6 linked regions of the Homo sapiens genome follow. The protein of the gene in region 1 purifies or fractionates together with the protein of each later gene. This does not show direct contact. Each region holds a gene or a part of one and is shown in the gene's direction. Other genes may lie near its edges.

Region 1 (3,500 bases):
CAGGCATGAAGTCATTGCTCCTGGGCCGATGACATCTTTGTAGGAAGAGGGCAAAACAGGTGTGGGGTGGAGGTGCAGGGTCTAGGGCCCCTCGGGGAGTTGGACCTGATGTTCTGAGTCCTATTCCAGATCTGATTTGCCATGGTTTGTGCAGACCCGAAGGAGGGAGGAGAGTGTGCAGGGTTGGGATGGTCTCCCGGGCAAGCTTCCCAGCCTTACGCCCACTCGCCTCTGTCCCTGGCAGACCCACAGTTCATCAAAGCCACCATCGTGCACCAAGACCAGGCTTACGATGACAAGATCTACTACTTCTTCCGAGAGGACAATCCTGACAAGAATCCTGAGGCTCCTCTCAATGTGTCCCGTGTGGCCCAGTTGTGCAGGGTGAGCAGGGGCGTGAGGGCTGCTGGCTACGTGTCTGTGCATGAATAGGCCTGAGTGAGGGTGAGTTCTGTGTGTCCGTGTGCATGTAGAAGTTGTGTGGATGTATGAGTGGGTCTGTGTCAGGGACTGTGGGAGCAGCTGTGTGTGCATGGAGCATCATGTGTCTGTGTGTGGGTAAAGGTGGCTGAGCTCCTGTGCACGTATGATGGCGTGTGAGCGTGTGTATGATGGGGTGTGTGTGTGTGTGTGTGTGTGTTTTGCCTGTGTGAATGTGCTGTGCCACGTGTGTGGGTGTGTGAGTCAGTAAATGTGTGTCTGAGTCCGTCTGCTCTGTGGGGACCTGGCACTCTCACCTGCCCTGACCCTGGGCACTGCTGGCCCTGGGCTCTGGATCAGCCAGGCCTGCTTGCTGGAGTCTCATCTGGAGACCTGCCCTGAGTCCTGGGGCACCCCCGGCAGGTCCTGGCCCCTCACAGCCTGCCTTCCTCCTCTGGGCCCAGGTGTTGATATTGCTGGCAGTGGTTTCCTGGGGTGTGTGGGGAAGCCCGGGCAGGTGCTGAGGGGCCTCTTCTCCCCTCTACCCTTCCAGGGGGACCAGGGTGGGGAAAGTTCACTGTCAGTCTCCAAGTGGAACACTTTTCTGAAAGCCATGCTGGTATGCAGTGATGCTGCCACCAACAAGAACTTCAACAGGCTGCAAGACGTCTTCCTGCTCCCTGACCCCAGCGGCCAGTGGAGGGACACCAGGGTCTATGGTGTTTTCTCCAACCCCTGGTGAGTGGCCCTTGTCCTGGGGCCGGGGCTGGCATTGGTTCAGTGTCCAGTAGGGACAGGAGGCCTTGGGCCCTGCTGAGGGCCTCCCTGGTGTGGCAGGAGCAGGGGCTGCAGGCTCAAGAGGCTGGGCTGTTGCTGGGTGTGGGGTGGGGGGACAGCCAGTGCGATGTATGTACTGTTGTGTGAGTGAGTCTGCACTCATGGGTGTGTGTGCATGCCCTATATGCACACTCATGACTGCACTTGTGCCTGTGTGTCCCACCACCTGCTTGTGCCGAGAGTGGACACTGGGCCCAGGAGGAAGCTGCTGAAGCATCTCTCGGGGAGCTGGGTGCTATTACACCTGCTCAGGCACTGCCTGAGCCCGATAATTCACACTTCTTAATCACTCTCATTGATTGAACACACGGCAGGCGGAAGTGTTGGGTGTGTGTGGGGAGAGTTAGGGATAGAGTGGAGGAAGCCAAGACCCTGCTCTGTGGCTCCTGGGTGAGTGGGGTCCCCCAGGCTGGGAAGGGGTTGGGGGTCTGGCCTCCTGGGGCATCAGCACCCCACAGCCTGTGCCCAGGGAGGGCTAGAGAACTGCTCAGCCTATGATGGGGTTCCTCCTGCCTTGGGGTTGGGTAGAGCAGATGGCCTCTAGACTCAGTGATTCTGTAACAGGATACAAGTTTGTGGTTTTAAATTGCAGCACAAAGAAATTAGGCTGAACTCCTCTCCTTCCTCCTCTCCATCCCTCCCCATTTTCAGTGGTGGTTGGCAACTCAGTGCCAGGCACAAGGCTGGCCTGGGTGAGTGGAGGTGGATGGGTGGGTTCTGGGCCCCCCATTGAGCTGGTCTCCATGTCACTGCAGGAACTACTCAGCCGTCTGTGTGTATTCCCTCGGTGACATTGACAAGGTCTTCCGTACCTCCTCACTCAAGGGCTACCACTCAAGCCTTCCCAACCCGCGGCCTGGCAAGGTGAGCGTGACACCAGCCGTGGCCCAGGCCCAGCCCTCCTTCTGCCTCACCTCCCACCACCCCACTGACCTGGGCCTGCTCTCCTTGCCCAGTGCCTCCCAGACCAGCAGCCGATACCCACAGAGACCTTCCAGGTGGCTGACCGTCACCCAGAGGTGGCGCAGAGGGTGGAGCCCATGGGGCCTCTGAAGACGCCATTGTTCCACTCTAAATACCACTACCAGAAAGTGGCCGTCCACCGCATGCAAGCCAGCCACGGGGAGACCTTTCATGTGCTTTACCTAACTACAGGTGAGAGGCTACCCCGGGACCCTCAGTTTGCTTTGTAAAAACGGGCATGAAAGGTGTAAGGAATAATGTAGTTAACATCTGGTTGGATCTTTACATGTGGAAGGAATAATTGAGTGACTGGAGTTGTCAGGGGTTAATGTGTGTGGGTGTGGAAGAGTCAGGCAGGGAGAGCTTCCTGGAGGAGGTAGGGGCAAGAGGGAAAGGGGGATGGGAGAAAAGCAAGCACTGGGATTTGGAGGCGGAAATCTGGAGAGTCTGAGCAAAGCCAGGTGCACCTTTGGTCCAGATGTCTGACTCAGGGAAGAAGATGGTAGGAAGAGACGTGGCAAATGAGGAGGAGGGGCCTGAACCACAGGGATACTGGCCTCTGCCAGGCAGAATGAGGGAGTCAGGCCCTGCGCCTGTCTTTGGGATTGTGCAGGTGAGAGGAAACATTTGAGGAGTTGATGGGGCACAAATTAGGTATGAGGAAGGAGTTCCAGGGGGCAGAACCTTTGCCATCTCACAGAGGACAGGGGCAGCTTCTCTTCTTCCCTGGAGTAGGCCCTGCTGGGGGAAGCTGGGTGGAATGCCGTGGGAGATGCTCCTGCTTTCTGGAAAGCCACAGGACACGGAGGAGCCAGTCCTGAGTTGGGTTTGTCGCAGCTTCCCATGCCAGCTGCCTTCCTTGAGACTGGAAAGGGCCTCTAGCACCCCTGGGGCCATTCAATTCAGGCCCAGGCGCCCAACCTCAGTTGTTCACATTCCCCATGTGATCTCCTGTTGCTGCTTCACCTTGGAACTGTCTCGGCTTTGGTGACCTTGTAGGAAACTGGAACCCCAGCACCATTGTTTGGCTCCTGGAAGCCTTGGGGAGAGGAATTTCCCACAGGGCAGGGCCTGGGTCCTGATTCCCTGCCTCTTTACTCCCTATTCATCCCGGCTACACCCTTGGGCCCCCATCCTTGCTTGGCTCCAGTAGTGGCTGGCACAGCTGTTGTGGTCAGCCAGGGATGGCAGGGCACTGGGGAGCAGAAGAGGAGAGGTCACACAGTGCGGAACTGGGAGCAGGAGCTAGGACAAGGAAGGCTGGACTTGGGCCATGGATT
Region 2 (4,225 bases), on another chromosome or scaffold:
TAAAAAGGTAGTGGCTAGCAGAGAACCTGAGACTTGTACCCATGAGAACTTTAGCCCAGTCTATCTATCACGATAGCCCCAAGAATTCTGGTCATTGTACTTGGGTAAGGGCTTCTATTTTTTAAGGCACTTGCATTTTATGAAATGTTAGTGTTTGCAGGTGTCTTGGCTAAATAATTTAGGGAATACATTTTAGGAGGAAGTAGGGGCACAGAGGGGGAGAGAGAAACCAGGCAGGAAAGAAGAAAAAAAGAAAAAAGAAGAAAATAAATCTTTCTGTTCCCATTATTTTACTGCCTATAGAATTATAAAAGGTAAACACACACACACACACACACACACACACACACACACCCCTTATAGGGTCATTTAGAACCATCTTTCTTCATTTTAAAACTAAAGAAACAGGTCTAGGTGACACAGATGAAGCAGTGGCAGAGCCAGGAAAATAACCTGACCCTTGTCCCTGCTCTTTCCACCGCACCATGGTGACTCTCTTTTTTGTGTCTTTTTTTTTTTTTTCACTCTAAAACTGAGGATCATTTGTAGTCAAAGAGATCAATGCTATTCTCAAAACAAGTTCTGATCTCTCATAATTTTCTTGGTAACTCAGAATCAATGTTAAGTACGTTGAAATAAAAATACAGTTCTTTACACGGTAATTTTGTAGACTGTGCACCACGGTCCCATCCATTTTCTTACTTGATCCTTACAAAAACCCTTTGAGGCAAGGCAAGGAAGGTATTATTATCTACATTTTTAAAGTGAGCAAATTAAAACCCAAAGTAAGGTCACTTAGGGTCAGGACGGAGCAAGTACTCTATTCCTATATTTGGAATATAGGAGGGAATACACTTCCAAAGAGGCAATTCCCTCAAAAAGCACCAATCTTGCTCTTTACTTTCTTACCAAGGCATTCTCCATGCCCTGGAGATGCCCTCACTAAGTTAGTGAAGCTTGGATGTTGACATCCACAGAGGTTACTCCTAGTTTGCACCTAGTTGTCATCTTAAAAAGCGCAGTTTCTTACCCCTTCCCTTGGTCCTGATCCTTATTTAGGCTCCTATTTTTCTCTTTGGGATTTGGCGTCCTGGGTCTCACTCCAAAGCTCCACCCTCTCCAACCAAGAAGTCGCGTGCTTGGTATCCAAGGTGACCACGCAGCTTTACCCGCGTTGCCCCTTCCGTGCTTCCCATTGGCCAGTGGACTCCCATGTACCGCCCCTCCAATAGCCAATGGTCTTGAGACAAAGGGCGCCCGCCTTTCCAGCGATTCTAACACCTACCCTCTTACCCGTGCTCCCCTGCGCATTGCCTCCTGGGAAATGTGGTTTCTAAGAGGCAGAGCTCTGCGACTTAGAACTACCTATCCCGTCGGCCTTAGCGAAAGGGGGTGGACTTAGGCAAGGGGTCCAGGTCAGAGTTTAGAGCTTTCAAATCCCAACTTGCCCCTGGGGATTGCGCGGCTGATGTTTAGAACGCCTAGTCAAGCCAACCGGCTCGCTCTTGTTTCAGCAAACCCTGACTTACGTCTCCTATTTGACTTGAGGCGGCACAGTGGCCAAGTCGATTGGCCGTGGCAAGTGACCCTCCCTGTGGCTGAAGTGTTCTGAGGACTGGCGAGAGAGGCGCGCCATGCTTGCCCCCTGCTCAGGTTGGGAGCTTGGCTGCTTCCGTCTCTGTCTCCGTCAGGTCCGACTGTGGGCTGGCGCTGGGCGCTGGGCTTGCTGGGCTTGCCAAGCCAGGCCGTACAGCTCAGGTGGGAGCGAGCGCTGGCCCGGATCGGAGACTGAGGTCCCTCCGCCTGGCCCGGGGCGCCGAACTCTGAAGGAGTGGACACTGCAGGTGAGCCCGTTTGGTCGGCTGCGGGCGCGGCTCCCGTGCCACCTGGCCGTGAGGCCCCTGGACCCCCTCACCTACCCGGATGGCGACCGCGTGCTGGTCGCGGTGTGCGGCGTGGAGGGCGGCGTGCGGGGCCTGGACGGCCTGCAGGTGAAGTACGACGAGGATCTGGAGGAGATGGCCATTGTGTCTGATACTATCCACCCCCAGGCGTCCGTGGAGGTGAACGCGCCCCTGAAGTTTGGCAAGTGAAGTGAAGTGAAAACGGGTTTGGGTCCCAGGGAACGCACAGTGAACTTAATAAATGTGGTCGACGTGCACTTTTAATTGGTCCTGGCTCTCTAAACCTAATTTACAGTTGGCCCCTTCGGAAATGCACCTTTTCCTCTGTTCTGTTCTTGAGTGTCCGAGTAGTATTTAAAAATTAGGTTCCCAATTATAGAAATTTTATACATCGAATGGAAACATGATTTGGTATAATCCAGGTCAAATTCTATTTCTGGAGCCGCTTGTGTTCTCCTTTATCCCGTTGTCATTAGCAAACTGGCTTATTTTTCAAGGTTGAAGTTTCTTGACAATTCATTCAATGGTATGGCAGTCCATCTACATTTCATCTTGCTCACAGCCTGGGGGTCTGTCCCAAAACAGCCCTGTCAATAGGATGTTCCGGGTATCACCTGGTTTGAGTATTTGGTTTTAGACGGGCGCCCAGCTTCTTACTGTTATATTTCCATTCTTTTTGGCCTAAGTTTTCCATGAGTAGCAAGCTTTGAAGAAAAACACATGGTAAGCCTGCCTAGGAAGCTTCAATAATAATGCCTGCAAGATACCTTTCTTAGCTTTTCCTAAATGGCAAGCCACTGTGTACACACACTTTTCTAGGAAGGGCTCCCCAGACTGTCATTCTTCCTGGGACTGATGGAAGATATTGATGATGATGATGATAGTAATAATAATAGCATTTAGCATTTTTAAGATCATCTTTTATAATGCTTAGAGTTGCCCAAATAGTAGATGCCGTAGTCCTCCCTTATCCACCGTTTGGCTGTCTCAGTTTGTTACCTGCCTCAGCTGTTGTAGGAAAATATTAAGATATTTTGACAGATCACAGTAATATAACTTTTATTACAGTATATTGTTATAATTGCTGTATTTGTTATTATTGTTCATCTCTTACTATGCCTAGTTTATAAATTAAACTTGATCATTGATATGTATACAGGAAAAAACATAGAATATATAGGATTTGGTACTATTTGTGGTTTCAGGAATCAAGTGGGGGGGCGGGTCTTGCCTACTTTAAGAGAAATCATCAATATTTATGTTAATTCCAAATTAAATATCAGCGTTTTTAATTTTTAAAATTTGTATACAGAGATGCCTGCAGTTACATCTTAAATAGACAGCCAAGGATGGCATTTGTAATTCCTTATTTTCCAAACTTGCTTCATATACCACTGCCATTTGTCCACAATCTTGTGGGGTTTTTTGTTTGTTTGTTTTGGTTTTTTTTGAGACTGCATCTCACTCACTCTGCCACGCAGGCTGGAGTACAGGTGCACAATCATGGCCCACTGCAGTCTTGACTTCACGGTTTTAAGCAATCTTCTCGCCTCCACCTCCTGAGTAGCTGGGACTACAGGTGCATGCTACCATGCCCGGCTAATGTTTTTGTTTTTTTGTAGAAATGGAGTTTTGCTACATTGTCCAGGCTGGTCTTGAACTCCTGGGCTTCAAGCAATCCTCCTTCCTCGGCCTCCCAAAGTGCTGGTATTACAGGCATGAGCCACTGCTCATGGCCTAATCTTGTAGTTTTAATAGTATATATTAGCTTTTTCAAAGTTGTTCCCATTTTTAAAAAATTACTTCAAATACCTGTGATATAGTTGCATGGTAATATTTTCATTTTTTAAGTATGAAAGGTTAGACATAGGATTTGAAAACCTAAGTCATGATCATATATACTGGGGAAGAGGCTTCTACAGTCTTTCACAGGAGTACTTAACAGAATCGTAGTCTCCTTTACTTCCCATCTATGTTAGTTCTCTTTAGGTGATTTAGGCCAGTAGAAATAACTGCTCTGTTTCTAAAAACGGGCAGAAAGGCTATTGTTTTTGGTCCCGTTGCTGTGGTAGAAGACCCCTTACCTTTACAGTATGCACTTTCCAGGATTCAGCAATATTACGGACATAACTGAGGAGTTGGGTTTCTAGGTTAAAATGCTTTGGAGCTTATAAACTGCAGTACTAACTTGCTTTTTTCTTTTTTTACTTCTAGGTTTAGATATCAAGTCATCAGGGTCTGGCTGTGTAAAAGTTCAAAGTATTGAGGGTGATAATTGCAAAATTGAAACAGAGCATGGGACTAGTATCTTGCAGTCTGTT
Region 3 (3,500 bases), on another chromosome or scaffold:
AGATGAGTTTTTATTAGACTGTGAAGATCCTTGGTCCAGAGATTGAGTAGTAGTATATTAGATTACTCAAAATCATTTAAAAGATTAGCATTATCTTTCCAAAAACAAGTTAAAACAAGTTTAAAAACCTGTTTTAGTCAGATATAAAAGATTATTTAGGAAAAGTCATCTATATTATTGTTATATTCTAAAAGAAAATTAGACCAGTCTTAAATACAAAAGTCAATGAGAAGGTAAAATCTTTGTAAATGGTTGAGTTTTATAGACGTGTAGGGTAGTAATTGGTTATCATCATCATCATGATCAACATTATAGAAACTCATGTCAATTTTAACATTTTGGAAATAGGTAGTACTTAATATATATTAAATTTAGGGAGTAGAATATGAATAGGATTAAAAAATTCTTAACATTTGAAATAGTTTGTTTCCTGTTTTTAGTGACTGGCCTTTGTTTACTTAGAAAACATCCATTTCTGGTAGGTTTTAAAGAATGTAGACCATTCTTTTTTGAGATGTTTTTGGAGAGTGGATTAAGCATCTTCTCAACTGCTTTAAGTTAACTGCTTTAAGAAAAGATTTTATGGTGTTTTAAATTTAAATATACATTATTAACTTGTTTTGTTTGAACTACATTTACAGTGAACTGCTTGAAGTGGACCACATCAGAACAATATATCACATGTTTATTGCCCTCCTCATTCTCTTTATCCTCAGCACACTTGTAGTAGATTACATTGATGAAGGAAGGTAAGACAACAAAAAAGATGGCTGGCTAGTTGATGCATGAGAAGTTAGAGGTTTTCACTAAATTTTGGTAAAGGGTAAATTGATTAAATTGCTTCAGGAAATCCTAAAGCAGCAGATTTGAGGGTGATATTCCTTTGCCCTGAAAAGTTTAACTGATGGAGAAAATTAGAAGTTTCATTACTTTTATTTTTAAAATGGTTTATTTGAATAGACCATAATCAGTAATTTCTAGGTAATTTTCCCAAATGGGAGAACTTTATACACAGTTGACCTACGAACAGCACGGGTTTGAACTGTGCATGTCTATTTATACACAGAATTTTTTCAATCAATGTGTTTAGCACTCTGTATCCATGGGTTCTACATCTGCAAGCAAAGGCTGATTGGGATCTAGAGTATTCCAGGATGCAAAACACACATATAAGAATGGCAGATTTTTCATATCTGTGGGTTCCACGGGGCCAACTGTGGGCCTCGAATTTGCATAAGTTTTGGTGTCTGCACAGTTTCCTGGAACCAACCCCCCATGTATAGGGAGGGATAACTGTATATGACTTATTAACTTTTTGATTGTCTTTATTTAAGATGGTTACTTAAAACAAGTAGCTTATTGGAATTGAAGGTTGAAAAAGTTGATATTTCTTTTTAATGTGAAAGTCAAATTATAGGCCAGGCATGGTTGCTTGTGCCTGTAATCTCAGCACTTTGGGAGGCCGAGGCGGGAGGATCACTTGAGCTTAGGAGTTGGAGACCAGCCTGGGCAACATCTCTACAAAAAATTTAAAAATTAGCTGGGCGTGGTGGCAGACACTTGTAGTTCCAGCTACTCAGGAGGCTGAGATAGGAGGATCGCTTGAGCCAGGGAGGTTGAGGCTGCAGTGGAGCTGTGTTTGTGCCACTGCACTCCAGCCTGGATGCAAAGGAGACCAGATCTCAAAATAAAATTTTAAAACTCAAATTGTAGCTTAAAAAATGACAGCGTGGTAATCATGGATTGAATTATGTACTTTTTTTGAAAATTAAGTTTGGAGATAATGGTATAGTATATTAACATATTTTTAAATTGTACCTATTTCTTCTGAAAAATCATCTTTTGTACATAAGAACGATTGCTGTTTGAATATTTTCCATAGAATATTTTACAGTTAGAAAATTAATGTGAGAATCTAATCTTTCAGAAGTTCAAAGTCCAATTATCTTAGATATCTTAAGTTTGAAGACTGTATTTATCTTAGGGCTTTTAGAAAATTTGTTTCTAAAGAACATATATTGTTGATATATATATATATATATATATTGTAAAGCAGATGGTTAGAAGCAGATCTCTAACTAGCAGAACTATTACATCCATGACTTCAGCGTATTAACGTTGTGGTGTTTCCTAAGGTTGAAAGTTTGGTGTTTGAAACTTTTAAATTCTGTGAACTCAGTGTATATTAAAAATTCACCTCTATGTTCTTTTTCTGTACCTTTTCTCCCCAGGCTGGTGCTTGAGTTCAGCCTCCTGTCTTATGCTTTTGGCAAATTTCCTACCGTTGTTTGGACCTGGTGGATCATGTTCCTGTCTACATTTTCAGTTCCCTATTTTCTGTTTCAACATTGGGCCACTGGCTATAGCAAGAGTTCTCATCCGCTGATCCGTTCTCTCTTCCATGGCTTTCTTTTCATGATCTTCCAGATTGGAGTTCTAGGTTTTGGACCAACATATGTTGTGTTAGCATATACACTGCCACCAGCTTCCCGGTTCATCATTATATTCGAGCAGGTAAGGTTTTAAGTGTTACCCAAGGCGATGCTGTCCTCGGCTAAAATAATAATAATGATGATGACATACTGATACTATTATTTTTAGCTGTATTAACTTGGATAAATTTTCATATATTGTTCTTTTGCCATTATCTGTAAAATTGTTAAACTAGAATCATCTCACCTCTTAAGTTTCATTGTAGCTTCCATGTTCTCTGAATTTTGATAAATAAATTACGTTGAACTTTTTTTTTTTTTTTTGAGACAGAGTCTCGCTCTGTCACCTAGGCTGGAGTGCAGTGGCACCATCTCGGCTCACTGCAACCCCTGCCTCCCAGGTTCAAGTGATTCTTCTGCCTCAGCCTCCCAAGTGGCTGGGACTGCAGGCGCCTGCCACCACACCCGGCTAATTTTTGTATTTTTAGTAGAGATGGGGTTTCACCATATTGGCTAGACTGGTCTCAAACTCCTGACCTTACGATCCGCCTGCCTCGGCCTCCCAAAGTGCTGAGATTACAGGCGTAAGCCACCGCGCCCGGCCACATTGAATTATTTTTGATGCATCAAGATTTTGTTTCTGAATACTTTTTGTAAAAGTCATTTAAATTATAAAATATTTTCATAATTAAAAACTTCACTTTTGAAATGTCAGATTCATTGTTTTGTCATGTAACTATATAATAAAGGTTTTATTTTAATTTGTTTATACACTTATCAGGATTTTCTGACTTTACTGGCTATCTATAATGCATTTGACTAATGGAAAGGACACTTGCAGGAGACTTTCTTTGAAGAGACATCTTTTTCCTCCTGCTTTTGTAGATTCGTTTTGTAATGAAGGCCCACTCATTTGTCAGAGAGAACGTGCCTCGGGTACTAAATTCAGCTAAGGAGAAATCAAGTATGTAATTTCTTTTGTTCATTATTTCTTCCTCCCCTCCCCTCCTCTCCCCCCACCCCATTCCCTTCCCTTCCCTTCCCTTCTTTCCTTCTTTCCTTCCCTCC
Region 4 (3,500 bases), on another chromosome or scaffold:
AGGCTGCTAGTTTTATTTAGTTACTGTTAGAACTGTTTAGTTATAATGGTTACTAGTCATCAAAGCTAGTAAAAATTACGTCTATATCTGGGTCTAGATGTTGTTTAATCTCATAAAGGGCAGTTTCATTTCATAGGGAAGATCAGTTCTCCATGGAGGACCTTTCATAATTCAGTCAAGAATCACTGAATATAAATACATTTAAAAAGCAGAATAATTTATTTTCAGAATACATAAATCTACAACTATTGTAGCTTGATTTTGTGCTTTAATACTGCTTTCTATTTTCTCAGCATTCTCACTATTATTTTTTTCCTGAGAGCTCTTAATAGCTGTTTGTGTTTTTCTGGCATCTTTCTCCATATTTGTGGCTGATTGTCAGGTGTGTTTTTCAGCACGATCACTATCACATAAAGAATGTTTGGATGGCATTTTGTAATTTTAACTTTATTAAAGCAGCAATTGTTAACATAATAGCGTAGCTGTCACCAAGACCACTTACAGAAGTTCTAGTATGGTTTATTGTACTGATCATGAAAACGTGTGATTTTATCTACTAGTTTACAGTAGCACTAATTGTAAACACAGTTTATAAGTCACTTGACCAGTTACTTTTGAAAACTTGTTACCTAGACAAATTATTAGTTTAGGGAGATTGTTGTAATTGAGAAGAGCGAGGCTTTATTAATATTTTTAATACTAAAATTTGTCCAAAGTGCTACTACTCTGCCCTTTGGGCAAATACTTTTCCTATTTCCTAACAGTAATTACTACTTTTTATAATATAGCTTTTCAGTGTTGGAGTTGTCAACAGCAGAATCTTTTTCTGCGGGTTTTCATATTAATCATAAAGTTCTTATGTAATTGTTTTCCGCTAAGTTTAAAAAGTTGTTGTTGTTTTTTGAAAATGAGACCTTATTTCTCACTCTTTTCTCATCTTTCATATCCATGGGAATGTTATAAAAATGTAGAACTTAAAGGTTACCCTCTTAGAATTTTCTTGGTGAGAAAACTAAAATAGGGCCAGGTGAATGGCCCAATGTAATTATTGAGTTCAGCAGGTGAAGTTTGGGATTGAAGTTGAGTTCTCTTGTCTTTGTTAATTACATCCGTGTAAAATTGTAGGTTTCAGATCTAAAGTCTAAGGCATCTGTCAAAGGCACATTAGTGGGAAGTTGACCTCATGTGTCCCATGACCCTAGAGCTCTTTTGACAAGAGCTTTACTGGCTTCTGGTCATTTGGGGGAATCACTCTTTTATATCTTTATGGTCAACCTGTCAGTCTCTGGGGTTTTTTTATATGATTATTTTTGAAAACTATTTAATTGAATTTTTTTGTGTTGGTTGGCTTGGCAATGATATAACAACACAGTAAAATAGTAAAAAACTGTCACAGTTTTCTTAGTCACTTAAAAGATAAGCAAGATTTGTGATACCCAGGGGAAGCTTGCAATTTGAGGGGAATGCATATCTTACCATTGGAATGGGTTATCAGTTAATGAACTTGTTAAATCTCTTGCTGAATATGATGGGGCCTGGACGTGTGTTGTAGGTGTGTGTGGTTCTCTTTTTACTCTAGTGGAGAGATGCAGATTCTACACTTTTTCCATTAGGTTTACTAAAGTTTTACAGCTTCCCTATGCATGCTCAGAAGCAGATCATATTATCTTGGTTGTGTATCTTATCTAGCCATTTGTTCTTAAAACAATAAAATGCACTTTTTTAATAAGAAGAAAGTTACTTTATGAAAATTACTAATGTAGATTACTGTTTGATTTTGAAATGTTTGCGTCAAAGTCATTCGAATCAGAGCAAATCCATTTCGAATGGAGGCTGAGTAAAATAAGGCTGAGACCTACCAGGCTGCATTACCAGAAGGTTAGGCATCCTAAGTCACAGGATAAGATGGGAGGTCAGCAAAAGGTACAGGTCACAAAGACCCTGCTGATAAAACAGCATGCGGTAAAGAAGCCAGCCAAAACCCACTGAAACCAAGATGGCGATGAAAGTGACCTCTGTCATCCTCACTGCTCATTATACACTAACTGTAATACATTAGCATGCTAAAAGACATATCCACCAGTGCCATGACAGTTTACAAATGCCATGGCAATGTCAGGAAGTTAGGCTATATGGTCTAAAAAGGGGAGGAACCCTCAGTTCCAGGAATTGTCCCCCCCTTTTCCAGAAAACTCATGAATAATCCACCCCTTGTTTAGCATATAATCAAAAAATAACCATAAGTATGAGAATACTATAAGTATCCTTAGTCCAGCAGCCCAAACTGTTCTACCTATGGAGTAGCCATTCTTTATTCCTTTACTGAATGAACTTGCTTTGGACTCGCCCGGAATTCTTTCTTTTGCAAGATCTAAGAACTCTGTCTTGTAGTCTGGATCAGGACCGTTTTCTGGTAACATTTGTATTCATATTATGTGAGGATAAGACTTTTAAGGGAAATTAGAATTTATTGTCTTCAAAACACTTACGTTGAGTAGTTGTATTAAGTATTGCCTAATTTAATATCTGTACATATATACATATTTAAAATATGTGAACATTTACTTAGTGTATTTCTCTGTTTAGAAGCCTAATTATATTCCGCTTTGGGATGGTGATATATACTTTCCATGCTCTCCTGTTTTCATATACTGTATTCACTTTAAAATAAATCGTTTTGTCCTTGATGCTCTTGTGATTTCTAAGGCATTTCCTCCTGTGTGCTAGTGCATCCTCTTCGTTGAATGTGCTTAACATCTTCGAGCCTGAGCTTGGAGTCAGAGAAACCCAGCTCTCCTCCAGGCCTTGCTGTATCCCAGTCATGTGCCCCTGAGCCTCATGGGAAAATAAGACCCATATCTGCCTCAAAGGCACCCCTAGATCATTTTTGCTTAATATGTGAAAGGGCTCTCTAAACTGCAACTGACAAACAGATGTTAGACATTTTCATTGTAATTAAGTTTTCTAATTTTTTCTTAACTGTTGGAAAGCACAGTTTTGCTTAATGCAAAATATATGGAGGAGATTCTGATTAACTAAAGTTGTGCTTAAAACCATCATCATGTAGACCACTGATTTCTAGATCTTACTAGGGGCAGTAGTTTCTTCAGATCATGACTGAATTTTATTTTTATTTATTTATTTTTTGAGACGGAGTTTTGCTCTTGTTGCCCAGGCTGGAGTGCAATGGCGCAATTTTGGCTCACTGCAACCTCTGCCTCCCAAGTTCAAGCGATTCTCCTGCCTCAGCCTCCCAAGTGTCTGGGATTACAGACATGTGCCACCATGCCCAACTAATTTTTTTTTTTTTTTTTTTTAGTAGAGACGGGGTTTTGCCATGTTGGCCGGGGATGGTTTCGAACCCCTGACCTCAGGTGATCCACCCGCCTCGGCCTCCCAAAGTGCTGGGATTACAGGCGTGAGCCATGGAGCCCGGCCTTCATGACTGAATTTTAAAAGCAATCTTGCTTCTCACTTTGAAACTCAATATCTCTATTAAT
Region 5 (3,500 bases), on another chromosome or scaffold:
ATATGTGGTTACTGGCCTTGAACTCTGGATGTAGTGGTTATCAAGAACTGCAGATTGATCTCTTCTGTATTTTCTTCCTGTCCTTGAAAATACTACCAACTTCTGTTGTTCCTTTTGACATAAAACCAAATAATCAATGTTATGTTTTTGTGCTTGTTCCCCACTTGATTCATCTGCAGAAGTCCTAGGTAGGAGAGTTTCTGTATAGCCATATTTTTATTTAGGAATCTAAGTACAGCAAATCAACTTTGGACTAAGCATTAGGAAATCTGTGTTTTTGGCTTGGTTGGGTTGTTGAATTGCTTTGTAAACTCTGTGCTTGCTTAGACTGCTTGCCTAATCAGTTTGGTTCTGTTTCATAATGCCACTACTAGATAGTTCAGTATCTGAAGCATCTAGGTTGCTTCTAGTCACCATGGAGACTTAACAGAAGGCTTGGTGTAAATAAGGGTAGCACCTGTGAGGGTAGCACAGGTGAAACAGTACCTGTGTAATGCAGGTGTTGGAGATGCATGGGGATAGGTATTGCTTGTAAAACAAGAAAGCCTGAAGTCGGGTATAGGTGAACATATTGTTTCTACTGGTAACAGTGCCATGGACCCATTTCTTTCTTCTTTAACAGTGACTCTGGACTTCTAAAACTTCAACTTATTATCCATCTCTTTTGCCTCTCTCCTCTCCCTTTAACCATGGTTAGACCTCTTCTTGCTTCACCTCTGTTAGAGATTGAGCAGAGGCAGGAAGAATGAAACCCAGAAAAGTCAACTGAATTTTTAGCAATACCCTTAAAAGATTTCGAGTGGGACGAAGGTTTTAACTATTCATATTACCTATGTCTTATTCTTTGTGTAACTGAAAATTTGTCAGTTTCTTCTTACAAATACATTTTTATTAAAATATGTTTTCATTTAACCAGTCTTCACCTATATCACATAGTTATCCCAGTGGCCCCAAACTTAACCAAATGGATGATTAAAGGGTGACTGATTCTAAAATTATGATCTAGAGCCAATTAATTTGTTCACAAAGAAAAATAAAAATAATAAAACCGGGAAATTACTTGGAGTAACCACAAACCAGATACAAAGTAAAATTAGCTACTTCTGACAAACTATTGCTTTGCTTTTAAAATTCTCACTTGCTTTACTTAATTAGTATATATAGACCAAACGAACAATGAAAAGTTACTTATTTTGGTTTTTGATCAGTTCAGTGTCTTGGCTTTTGACAGTTTTTAACTTTAACTTAGTTTACGCTCTGAAATTCAATCCTAGCAGCTCATTTGTGCTCCAATTTGGGGACTACTTGCATAAAAGAAGTCTCTGGAAAGCCTATATAGCATTGACTGTCAAATTAATGATATTCTATTCTCATTTGTAATCCTTTGCTTTATAACCTTATGACCTTGGAAAAAGTCACTCCTTTGTTTATACCTGTTTTCCATCTATACATGTGTAAATATTCTACTCTTTACTCCTCTAAATGAGACTATAAACATTTTTTCAAACATCTTAAAAACTTGAATATACTGTGTGAAATGGTTCTTTACTTAATGTTTGACTTAGGAAGGCAGAATTGCTGTTGTATGATTGAGTCCCAGAAAAGCTGATTACTAATTGGCCTGGTACAAGAGTGTGTCTCTGTTCAATAAGCTTATTTAATATTTTAGTGTAACCTTAATAAAGTTTACTAAAGTTTTATGTTATTTAAGACTATGGAGATATGCATGTTTCATATTTTCCTAACAGTTAACCAGTATTACTTTCCAAATTTTTAAATGCTCAATGCTATTTTAAGAAAGATATATTTAGACATATTACTGAACATATAAATATATTTATGATTACTCATTACTTTTAATTAATACTTTTTAATCTTTGGTTCTTATTTCTAAAATAAGCTTTCTTAGAAGATAATTAAACATTGTGTTTTTTCTTTTAGGGGTGAAGAAAAAGCAATTTATACTATGCTTTTTCTGAATTTAAGTTCTGGATCACAGAGCAATTCTGTGGTAGGAGATGATATCATGTAAAAATATGCTGGAGGGGCTGGGCGCGGTGGCTCACTCCTGTAATCCCAGCACTTTGGGAGGCTGAGGCGGGTGGATTGCCTGAGCTCAGTAGTTCGAGACCAGTATGGGCAACACGGTGAAACCCTGTCTCTACTAAAATACAAAAAATTAGCTGGGCGTGGAGGTGTGCGCCTGTAATCCCAGCTACTTGGAGGCTGAGCCAGGGGAATTGCTGGAACCCAGGAGGTGGAGGTGGAGGTTGCAGTGAGACGAGATCGTGCCACTGCACTCACGCCTGGGCAACAGGTGACAGAGCAAGACTGTGTCTCCAAAAAAAAAGTATATATATATGTACGTATGTGCTGGAGGAATTGATTTGGATTTATGATTGGTATTATTTTCCTCATATTACATATTCACAGTTGACGGCTGGGCACGGTAGCTCACACCTATAATCGTAGCACTTGGAGAGGCCAAGGCGGGTGGATTGCTTGAGCCTAGGAGTTCAAGACCAGCCTAGGCAACATAGTGAAACCCTGTCTCTATAAAAAATACAGTGAGCCAAGATTGTGCCACTGGGCTGCAGCCTGGGCAACAGAGTGAGACCCTGTCTCAAAAAAAAAAGAAAATTCACAGTTGTCAAAACATAGTTCTTCTAATGTTAAGCACTTGTTTATGCTATAATAGTAAAATGTTTCTTTTTTTTTTTTTTTGAGATAGAGTCTCGCTCTGTCACCAGGCTGGAGTACAGTGGTGCGATCTTGGCTCACTGCAACCTCCGCCTCCTGGGTTCAAGCAATTCTCCTACTTCAGCCTCCCAAGTAGCTGGGACTGCAGGCGTGCACCACCATGCCCAGCAAATTTTGGTATTTTTAGTAGAGACGGGGTTTCACCATGTTGGCCAGGATGGTCTCCATCTCTTGACATTGGGATCCACCCGCCTTGGCCTCCCAAAGTGTCTATTTTTAAAAAACTTTTACTGAATGATATTTCTTCCTGGTAAGATTGGGATAAATGAACTAAGATTAATTGACATCTTAAAAACTGAAATCAGTGTTCAGAAAGTAAATATTTGGATTATTGGAAAAATACTTATTTTTAAAACGTAGAGGTAGATGTTTGGCATAACAAATGAGAGTGACTGTTTTGCTTAGAAGGAATGAAATACTGCAAAAGTCTGACAGAAGTTAAGATGTACTTAGCTGTCAGAGTTCTTGGTGATACCCATAGGTAAAGAACAGTGGCTTTGCTAAATAATTAACCAGTCAACTGTAGCCAAAATTATAGGACAGATAAGTTCAGATAGGTCTATAGAATTCTAGAGAGCAATGTTTAACAAAATAAAAACAAGCGAAACACTGAAACGCAGGTATACCTCGGCACTGGAGATTGAGTGGCGCTCTGGGAAATGCAGCCTTCTCCAGGAAAAGGTGGGAATGGTCCTGGCAGAGCAGAAGCAGCGAGGCTAACTCGATGGCTCTGGCAGTGA
Region 6 (3,213 bases), on another chromosome or scaffold:
AAGAGGTGAGACCAGATGAAGCAAAGGGACCCAGAGAGGAAGAAGGGTTCTCTCAACAGTCTCTTAGTAATTAATGTCAGCCCTAGACCACCTAACTCACAGTACAGTGAATTCCTCATGATTCTTACCCCATTTTACAGAGGAGGCAACTGAAACCCAGAAAAGGAAAGTCAGCGTGTCTAAGTGATAGAAATGGGAGTAGAGCCCTGGTGATTCCCTCCTGCCCATTCTTCTGGTATCCCTTTTGTGGGTGAGCTGGGGATAAGGGGCACCATTGAACTGTGCCCCCAGGTGGACTGAAGAATGCATGTGGCCGCAGGGCGTGCTGGTGAAGCACAGCAAGAACGTCTACAAAGCCGTAGGCCACTACAACGTGGCTATCCCCTCTGACGTCTCCCACTTCCGCTTCCATGTGAGTCTCCTCCCCGGGGAAGGAGGGTTGGGGCCTGAGAGGGTGGGAGGATCTGCAGGGCAGGAATGTGATGTCATTGCAAGAGAAAGCTATTTTCAGTATTTCCCCAATCCAAAGGAAGACAGTGCACACATGTAGCACAAGGACAGCCATATAAATTGTCACTTAATAACTGCAGCTCGGCCGGGCATGGTGGCTCACGCCTGTAATCCCAGCACTTTGGGAGACCAAGGCAGACAGATCACCTGAGGTCAGGAGTTCAAGACCAGACCAGCCTGGTCAACATGGTGAAACCTCGTCTCCACTAAAAATACAAAAATTAGCCAGGTATGGTGGCGGGCGCCTGTAATCCCAGCTACTCGGGAGGCTGAGGAGGGAGAACCACTTGAACTCAGGAGACGGAGGTTGCAGTGAGCCGAGATCATGCCACTGCACTCCAGCCTGGGCAACAGAGCAAGACTCATTCTCAAAAATAAATAAATAAATAACTGCAGCTCATTTGGTTGTAGATCTTTGAGAACATTGGACAGAGGGAGAGAAGATGATACAGTAAAAGAAGGGGCTCTTGGCAGTGAAAGACAATACTGTCTTCATTTGTTACTGTGTGCCAGGCATGTCGTTAAGCACTCTCCATGTACCTTCCTACTCAGCCTTACCCTGAACCTTGTACGTGAAAGATATGCTAGGGTTATCTCTGTTTTTAGATACTGAAATCAGCTAAGAGAGTTTAACTTGTTAAAGGGTGCCTTCTTGGGAAACTTGAGAACCTAATGGTAATGACTCATGACTTAGCTATGGAAAGGGCTGCTCAAAATTATCTAAACTAGTGATCTCTATTTTTTTTTAAATTTCACTATGAAATCCCCTCCCCCCCTTTTTTAAAAAAAACAATCAGAGGCCAAAATCCAATATATGGGACATCCTGGCACTGCTCTGTTTGGAGGAGTTAGAACCCCCTTCACTTCCTGCTCACCCCCGCTGTAACTCCTAAAGGATCCCCTTGAAACCTGGGGCTCTAAGGAACACAGCATGAGAAATCACTGACCTAGACTGATGTCTTCATTTCACAGTTGAGACATCCAAGCCCCAGAGAGGAAAGGGACTTGACCAAAGTATTGCAGCCTGTTAGGTGCAGAGCTGAGCCTGATATCCTGGTCTCTTGGCCTCCCATTTCCTACCACTTCTCCTGTCCTGTAAGCAGCTCTTGAGATTTAGGTACCTTGGCCCCTGTGGAATCAAAATCCCTAGACACTGTGCACTCTTTTGAACTCATCAGAGATTTTTTTTTAGTCCCTACGTTCTACCTTGCTGTTGAGAGTGAGCTGTTGCCATGTCCCTTGGCAGCTTCCAGCCTAGCTAGGGATGTACCTATGAAGTAGTAGGTAATTCAGGCTGTAGAGTCTGTAATAACTTTCCATGCCTATGTCATAGGATTCTAATTTGTTCAGGCCCAGCAATACCCAGGAGATGACATTAAAAGGTGTTGATTTTATTGAGGGTCAGTGGATGAGGGAGAAAAAGTTTTCAAAAATTAAAAAAAATTTTTTTAAAGGTGTTGACTTTAGACCACAAAAAGAGTTTGAGAGAGCAAGCAGAACCTGTCAAGAAAGACTTCCTAGGGGAGGTAGAAGTTGAACAGGATCTTAGATGACTTACATCAGAAGCAGCAGTCCTATCAGGAGGAATACCACAAGCAAAGGCAGATGAGGTGGCAAAGTCCACATCCAACCCCAGAAAGTCTTCTTCCCCACCCATGTCTGCATGGGGCCCCAGGAGGCTGTCCCCTTCACTGGCCCACCCAGAACCCCCATCCAGGAGGAAGATTTCTGGAGCACACCTTTTAGCCATGCCCACCCGCTTCCGGGCAGTTCTTTTTCAGCAAACCCCTGCGGATCCTCAACATCCTCCTGCTGCTGGAGGGCGCTGTCATTGTCTATCAGCTGTACTCCCTAATGTCCTCTGAAAAGTGGCACCAGACCATCTCGCTGGCCCTCATCCTCTTCAGCAACTACTATGCCTTCTTCAAGCTGCTCCGGGACCGCTTGGTATTGGGCAAGGCCTACTCATACTCTGCTAGCCCCCAGAGAGACCTGGACCACCGTTTCTCCTGAGCCCTGGGGTCACCTCAGGGACAGCGTCCAGGCTTCAGCCAAGGGCTCCCTGGCAAGGGGCTGTTGGGTAGAAGTGGTGGTGGGGGGGACAAAAGACAAAAAAATCCACCAGAGCTTTGTATTTTTGTTACGTACTGTTTCTTTGATAATTGATGTGATAAGGAAAAAAGTCCTATTTTTATACTCCCAACAAGCCTGTGTCCTGTGGTTCTTTTCCTTCGTGTGTGTGAGACCTATTACAGAGGTGTGGGATTCTGGTTTAGGAAGCCCCAACATGTGGCTTCTGAAGCCTCTGTGGGTACTGCCTTCTTCAGTAGAGAGGAGATGAGAAGGCACTGGAGGCCACGGGAGCAGTGATAGCTACTGCGAACTGAATGCTCACTGTGTGCCAGATGCTGCTCTGTGTGTATTTCAGGCCTTGCCTTAATCTAACTTTTATGACAACCCTAGGAGGAAAGTGCTATCACTCCAATGGATGAAGAACTGGAGCTCAGAGAGTTATAGTGACTTGCCCGTAGTAACACAGCTAGGAAGTGGTAGAGCTGGACATAAAACCTCTGAAAGGCCGGGCACAGTGGCTCAAGCCTGTAATCCCAGCACTTTGGGAGGCCGAGGTGGGCAGATCACTGAAAGCCAGGAGTTCGAGACCAGCCTGGCCAAGATGGCAAAACCCCATCTCTACTAAAAATA

Evidence for each region.
Region 2: the proteins of SEMA7A (region 1) and FAM185A fractionate together in Homo sapiens (co-fractionation; one large-scale study listed by BioGRID). This does not show direct contact.
Region 3: the proteins of SEMA7A (region 1) and SOAT1 purify together in Homo sapiens (affinity purification with mass spectrometry; 2 studies listed by BioGRID and IntAct, with this or other methods). This does not show direct contact.
Region 4: the proteins of SEMA7A (region 1) and DPY19L1 purify together in Homo sapiens (affinity purification with mass spectrometry; 2 studies listed by BioGRID and IntAct, with this or other methods). This does not show direct contact.
Region 5: the proteins of SEMA7A (region 1) and TAPT1 purify together in Homo sapiens (affinity purification with mass spectrometry; one large-scale study listed by BioGRID and IntAct). This does not show direct contact.
Region 6: the proteins of SEMA7A (region 1) and TMEM39B purify together in Homo sapiens (affinity purification with mass spectrometry; 2 studies listed by BioGRID and IntAct, with this or other methods). This does not show direct contact.

The regions. Positions count from the first base shown.
Region 1 is NC_000015.10:74,413,459-74,416,958, reverse strand, and holds part of SEMA7A (semaphorin-7A isoform 1 preproprotein), read left to right. Parts: intron 1-244; coding exon 245-384; intron 385-973; coding exon 974-1,158; intron 1,159-2,012; coding exon 2,013-2,121; intron 2,122-2,213; coding exon 2,214-2,412; intron 2,413-3,500. UniProt on the Homo sapiens protein: Plays an important role in integrin-mediated signaling and functions both in regulating cell migration and immune responses.
Region 2 is NC_000007.14:102,747,574-102,751,798, forward strand, and holds the start of FAM185A (protein FAM185A), read left to right. Parts: upstream 1-1,425; 5' UTR 1,426-1,634; coding exon 1,635-2,085; intron 2,086-4,118; coding exon 4,119-4,225.
Region 3 is NC_000001.11:179,338,797-179,342,296, forward strand, and holds part of SOAT1 (sterol O-acyltransferase 1), read left to right. Parts: intron 1-641; coding exon 642-749; intron 750-2,231; coding exon 2,232-2,514; intron 2,515-3,213; exon of another isoform or gene 3,214-3,317; coding exon 3,318-3,396; intron 3,397-3,500.
Region 4 is NC_000007.14:35,027,486-35,030,985, reverse strand, and holds part of DPY19L1 (protein C-mannosyl-transferase DPY19L1), read left to right. Parts: intron 1-3,500. UniProt on the Homo sapiens protein: C-mannosyltransferase that mediates the C-mannosylation tryptophan residues on target proteins.
Region 5 is NC_000004.12:16,219,972-16,223,471, reverse strand, and holds part of TAPT1 (transmembrane anterior posterior transformation protein 1 homolog), read left to right. Parts: intron 1-3,500. UniProt on the Homo sapiens protein: Plays a role in primary cilia formation. May act as a downstream effector of HOXC8 possibly by transducing or transmitting extracellular information required for axial skeletal patterning during development. May be involved in cartilage and bone development.
Region 6 is NC_000001.11:32,100,151-32,103,363, forward strand, and holds the end of TMEM39B (transmembrane protein 39B), read left to right. Parts: intron 1-140; exon of another isoform or gene 141-291; coding exon 292-412; intron 413-590; coding exon of another isoform or gene 591-761; exon of another isoform or gene 762-921; coding exon of another isoform or gene 922-957; exon of another isoform or gene 958-1,964; coding exon of another isoform or gene 1,965-2,063; exon of another isoform or gene 2,064-2,280; coding exon 2,281-2,523; 3' UTR 2,524-2,713; downstream 2,714-3,213. UniProt on the Homo sapiens protein: May protect the cells against DNA damage caused by exposure to the cold-warming stress and facilitates tissue damage repair during the recovery phase.